2 linked regions of the Homo sapiens genome follow. The protein of the gene in region 2 interacts with the protein of the main gene of each other region in a pairwise test. Each region holds a gene or a part of one and is shown on either strand. Other genes may lie near its edges.

What was found.
Region 1: the proteins of MELTF (region 2) and MESD interact in binary tests that used the Homo sapiens proteins (3 or more experiments, as listed by UniProt).

What each region holds. Positions count from the first base shown.
Region 1 is NC_000015.10:80,975,221-80,977,595, reverse strand, and holds the end of MESD (LRP chaperone MESD precursor), read left to right. Parts: 3' UTR 1-1,844; downstream 1,845-2,375. UniProt on the Homo sapiens protein: Chaperone specifically assisting the folding of beta-propeller/EGF modules within the family of low-density lipoprotein receptors (LDLRs).
Region 2 is NC_000003.12:197,005,727-197,009,317, forward strand, and holds part of MELTF (melanotransferrin isoform 1 preproprotein), read right to left. Parts: intron 3,240-3,591; coding exon 3,083-3,239; intron 2,999-3,082; coding exon 2,931-2,998; intron 1,011-2,930; coding exon 823-1,010; intron 1-822. UniProt on the Homo sapiens protein: Involved in iron cellular uptake. Seems to be internalized and then recycled back to the cell membrane. Binds a single atom of iron per subunit. Could also bind zinc.

The DNA.
Region 1 (2,375 bases), on a different chromosome or scaffold from region 2:
CCCAGTATAAAGCAGCTGTTTTGATGAGATAATTGCTTTAATTAAGCAAAAGGTAGCAAAGCTTTCACTCCGCCCTGTACCTTCTGTTTCCACTTAGGAGCCTTCCCATGTCAGAATGTGCAGATCTGTCTCATTGTTTCCTGTGCAGTGTGCCCCCACTTCACCCAGTAGTTTCTGTGTGTCTGTTATGTACTAGGTACTACAAGGTGCCAGGACGGTGTAGATACAGCCTCTGCTATCGTAAAACTCAATGATTCGGTGGGGGAAGACAAATGTCAGTAATGTACAAAGTAAAATGGCAGCTGTTAGAAGTATGAAAGGGGCAGGGTAGGGGGAGGTAGAATCTTCCCTGACCAGGTTAAGAAAACCAGAGGCCTTCTCTGAGGGCAAGAGGAGGAGAGGAGAAATAGAGTAAGGCAGGCAGAGGAAACAGTCTGAGCTAAGACCCTGTGGCTAGAAGTGGCAGAGGGAGAGGCAGCAGGAAGGCCAGCGGGGAGGCTGGGGCCCAGTGCAGGCCCAGGTTGGAGGAGCGTAGCACATGGAGTTTGGTAGGAGTTTGGGACGCCCTGGTGGATCTTAATTGTGATGGGGTGGGTGTGAAAGGCAGTCCAGGTTGCACTGGTTGCACAGGAGAAGTGATCAGAAGAGGACCCCAGCAGGTGTGAGCCGTGAGCTGGGAGGTGCTTCAGTAGTGCAGGCCATAGCTGAAGGTGTCCTACATCAGCAGGGTGATGGTGAGGTTTGAACCACTGTTTCACTGCATAGTCCCTGCTGATGGACACTTGAGTGTTCAGATTTTTTGCTGGTATATTCAGTGCTGCAGTGGACATTTTCATACAAAATATTTCGGTACACTTTTGTTTATATCTGAAAGGTAAATTCCTAGCAGTAGAATTATTAGAGCAAACGGAATTTAACATTTTGGTGTGTATTGCCAAATTGCCCTCCCAAGTGGTTTAGTCAGCTTACCCTTGCCAACAATAGATCTATCCTTGCCAGCCTTGGGCATCACATTTACCAGTTTAATAGATTGTAAAACCATATCTTAATTGGCTACCCTGAAGCCACCATACTGGAGAGGCTGCGTACAGTGTTTCACGTAGAGAGAGGGATACCCAGGAGGCCCACCTGCTCCAACCCCAGCTGCATGAGTCTTCCCAGCCCAGGCACAGACATGTGGATAAGATTTAAACATTTCCAGCCCCAGCCTTCAAGCAATCCTAGTTGACACTGAGGGGAGCCAACATAAGCTGAGCTGAGAAACAGTCTGCCCAGTCTGCAGATTCATGAGCAAAAGAAATGTTGGGCTGGGTACAGTGGCTCACGCCTGTAATCCCAGTACTTTGGGAGGCCGAGGTGGGTGGATCAGTTGAGGTCAGGAGTTTGAGACCAGCCTGGCCAACATGGTGAAGCCCTGTCTCTACTAAAAATTAGCCGAGTGTGGTGGTGCGGGCCTGTAATCCCAGCTACTCAGGTGGCTGAGGCAGGAGAATGGCTTGAACCCGGGAGGCGGAGGTTGCAGTGAGCCAAGATCAGGCCACTGCACTCCAGCCTGGATGACGGGATGAGACTCTGTCTCAAAAAAACGAAACAAAAATTTTTTAAGAGAAATGTCATTTGTTTTTGTTTTTGAGACAGGGTCTCACTCTGTTGCCCTCACTAGAGTGCAGTAGGATCACGGCTCACTGAAGTCTCTACCTACCGGCTCAATTGATCTTCCCACCACAGCCTCCCAAATAGCTGGGAGAAATGTCCTGTTTTTAATGAATTTGTCTTCCTTTTTGTCTTGTTTGTTTTAATATCTAGTGATCTAATAAATTTGGATGATATCTTTTGACTATCAATTATGAAACCTGTATCAGATATACACATCTTTCCTTCTTCATCCTCAGGCTTTCTGGTTTTGATGGTGATACTGTGGCTTTTGTACTTCTGGTGGTTTCCCTTATACTGTTAAACCTCTTTTTTTTTTTTAAATTAAACCAACTTAGTATGCATTAACCACTGAACAAGGGAAAGGAACTCACAAACTTTTTCCTGTGTCCCTGATTATTGTTTAATAGTGTTTGTATACTGACAAGATACATAATATCCACCTTCTGCACCCACAGTGTCCGCCTTTATGCTTGGACAAGAGCATGCAGGGTAGGACATTTCTGAGCCTTGCTTTTTTCCCTGGAAGTTTTTTGTTTGTTTGTTTGTTTTTTAAGAGACAGGGTCTCTTGCTGTCTCACTCAGGCTAGAGTGCAGTGGTGTGTTCATAGCTCACTGCAGCCTCAAACTCCTGAGTTCAAGCCATCCTCTTGCCTCAGCCTCCCGAGTAGCTAGGACTACAAGCATGCACCACTATGCCTGGCTAGGTTTTTTTTTTTTTG
Region 2 (3,591 bases):
GGTTTAGCAACATGGGTCACTGTGACCTTGACAAGAACAGCTTCAGGGCCCTGGTGGGAGCCTGTCTGGGGTAGTCTCCATCCTTAAGAGGGGCCAGAGGAGAGGACTTGCTAACTCAGTCTCCATCCTTAAGAGAGGCCAGAGGAGAGGACTTGTTAACTCCAGAGCAGACCACTCTTTGGAGGAGTTTTGCTTCGAAAGGGAGCAGGATTGGCCGGGCACAGTGGCTCATGCCTGTAATCCCAGCACTTTGGGAGGCCGAGGTGGGCGGATCACGAGGTCAGGAGATCGAGACCATCCTGGCTAACACGGTGAAACCCCTTCTCTACTAAAAAATAGAAAAAATTAGCCAGGCATGGTGGCGGGTGCCTGTAGTCCCAGCTACTCAGGAGGCTGAGGTGGGAGAATGGCGTGAACCCGGGAGGCGGAGCTTGCAGTGAGCCGAGATAGTGCCACTGCACTCCAGCCTGGGGCGACAGAGTAAGACTCCGTCTCAAAAAAAAAAGAAAAAAAGGGAGCAGGATTACAGCTGCAAGAGGATGGATGTGAGACCAAGAGGTTAGTTTGTTCTTTAAGGATGGCAGAAGTCACAGCATGTTTCATGTTGGTGAAAATGGTCCGACTGAGAAGGGAAAATCAACGATGCAGGAGGCAGAGGGGACAGTTTCTGGAGGGATGTCCTTGCGTAAGTGAAAATCACAGAATTTCCCCCGGGCTTCCTCAATTTCTCTAGAGGTCTGCTCCAGGTAGACTGAGGCCTCCCAGGGGCTCAGCTTACCTCTGCTGCACACCCCTCAATGAGGTAGCCCCACCCTGGCTCACCTGGGCCTTGTCCAGCAGTCCATACACGGTGAAGATGTTGGTGTCGGGCCGGACCATCACGGCGTGGGGTGGTATCTGTGCCAGGTTGCAGGCTGCAAACTGGGACACCTCGGCTCGGGCCCCGTTGGGGCACAGCAGTTCATAGTCCTCTGACCTGAGCTCAGCAGCCCAGGGCTCGGAATTGTGGCCTGAGGGGGGTAAAGCAGTGTGTGTGGGGACGTTCCGGGAGTGGAGAGAAGTGTAAAGAGAAGCTGCTATCCTGGGACCCCAAGGCCTTCACCACAGGGAGGTGGCAACATCTGGCCAGCTCCCCAACCCTCTCCATTCTCCACGTGCTCTGCTGTGTTACCGGGGTGAAAGAACCCAGCTGTGTTCATGCCATTAGCAGGAGCTGCCATTAATTAGCAGGGAGTAGGGAGTACCTACTATGTGACAAGTACTTTACACGCGTTGCTTGATCCCCACAACAGTAACGCAGGGTAGGTGTTTTTGTCCCCATTTTACAGGTGAGGAAACTGAGGCTGTTAATCACTCCCAGGCAGAGAACCCCATCTATGTGTTACATCCTCAAGCCTGAGTGTGGGGTGGCTCCCTGAAGGTGGTGGGTGATTGTCCCTAAGGGCTGAAGTTCTCAAATGGAACAGGGTATAGCATCACTTGTGGATGCAGAAGGCAGCTTCAAGGGCCCTTGCTTGCAAAGAATCTTATTCAGGAGGTCTCAGATCAGGCTCAAGAATCTGCATGTTAAACCAGCATCCCACTGATTCTAAAGCAGGCGGTCTCGGGCTGCCTGAGAAAATGCTGCCCTCAGGAATCACATTTTCATGTCTCTGTGCATTCACTTAGTATCCATCCTCCTCCCATTTCCAGGAAATCCAGGTGGGCCTTGAGGAGAGCTAAAGATAAAAGGGAAAGGAGTGGCCCTGGGAGGCGGGTGACTCACTGCAAGTGAACCTCCCAAGGCCTCTCCAGCACCTGCCCGCCTCCCCTGACCCCATCCCAGACGACACCATGCACAGATCTGGGACCAGGCAGGCCCGCTGGGCTCGTGCAGGAGCACACAGCCCCTCCCTGGGGGAGGGTTTCAGGTGTTCTTGGTAGGAGGCTGGGTGGGGGAGCTGGGCTGTGGCAACAGGAAGGGTTCAGGGCCTGGAGCCCTCCCTAGCTCTGCTGGGGCAAATGGTCCTACCGCCTTGGTGACCCCCATAGGAGGCAAGATCCAAGTTTTGAAACACTAACTGAGGTTTTCGTTTTTTTCCCTGCACGTCTTGCTTCCCATTGTCCAGTCCCCTCCCCACCGGGCCACAGTTGTGCCTTTCTGGGCTAAGTCTATAGGAGGAGACATGTTGGGAGCGAGTGGAGAAGACTGGGCCTCCAGCATTTGGGGTTTCAAAGCCTGGGGTGTAGGCAGGGTATGCAGACAGTACAAGCCTTTGGTGTTGGAGGAAAACAGCCTCTAGTCTTCAAAACGGACACAGATTCCTTCACGGAGAACAAGAAGAAGGGGAAGTGATATAAGTCAGGGGAGCGTGTGCTCTGATAGGACCATGTATGTACTGGGGTCCCGGAGCAGAGCGTTCCTGAGCTCTTTGTCCCAGGCGGAGCCCAGGAAGGTGACTCCAGGAAGAAAACCCCCTGTGTGGTATGTTGGGCGTGCCCTGCCTCGGTGTGGCTTGGGGGCTGCAGAGAGATTTCCTTGCATGAGGCAGTGACCTGCTCAGGAACACAGACCAGATACTGATTGAACTCATGACCCTGTGGAGAGGCTCATGCCACTCCCACCTCACACCTTGGCACTACATCAATACTCCCAGAAGGGGGTCTTTCCAGATTGACTGGGATTGAGTTTCTACCGTTTCGGTGGATTAGGGACTTGAATTCCAGGCCAGTAAAAACCGTCATGTATCCAGCACCCCTGGATGTGTGGTCTGAGGTCTGTTCTTACCCTGTGACCCTTGGGGCTCCCAGCTTCCCAGGGGGCACAGCCTTCTAGACTCAGCCTCTCTGAGCTGCTGCTTGGCCCCAGCCCAGCATGGTGTCTGGATGGTGCTGAAGATGGGGAACAGTCCCCCCGACCTACCTTTGGCCCTGCTCTTGCCCCCACCTACCGTTTGTGTTGTCAAAGACGGTTGTGTGCCTGACGAAGGCAACGTCACCCGCATTCTCCACCAGGCACCTGCCACACAGAGGGCAGGGCAGGCGTCGGCAGGAGGGTCCCAGCCTCTGCACACAGCCCCAGACTGCCAGGCCACCCGGGTACCTGAAGGCGCCGCGGTAGCCGTAATACCGCTCCTGGCTGTTGCCCACACACTTGTTGCGGCCCTGCTCGTCCCCCACGCACAGTGCACACAGCGAGGAGGGGTAGTTCTTGGGGTTGTTCACGGGCACGCAGCTGGCATTGAAGAACTCGCTCACTGCTGGGGTGGAGGGAAGGGCAATGATGAGGGGCCAGCAGTGGAAAGTGTGGGAGGGAGCTGGGCGGGCCGCTCCCCCACAGGTCTGCCCACCCCCCGGATCCTACACTGCAAGGCCACCTGTCTGCTCCGCTCCCCTCAGCTCTGAGTGGAGTGTCTCCTGGAGGATCTCAGTGCGGGGAATGCAGAGGTTGTCTAGATACAGCATCTCCATCACCAAACATCACCCAGCCTTCACTTGAACTCCCTCAGGGACAGGGATCTCACTACCTCACTATTTTGTTCCAATCAGAGCAGGTGTCCAGCTGTCTGGGAGTGGGAGCTGCCAACCCTAGTGCCCTCTGTGTGCTTGTGT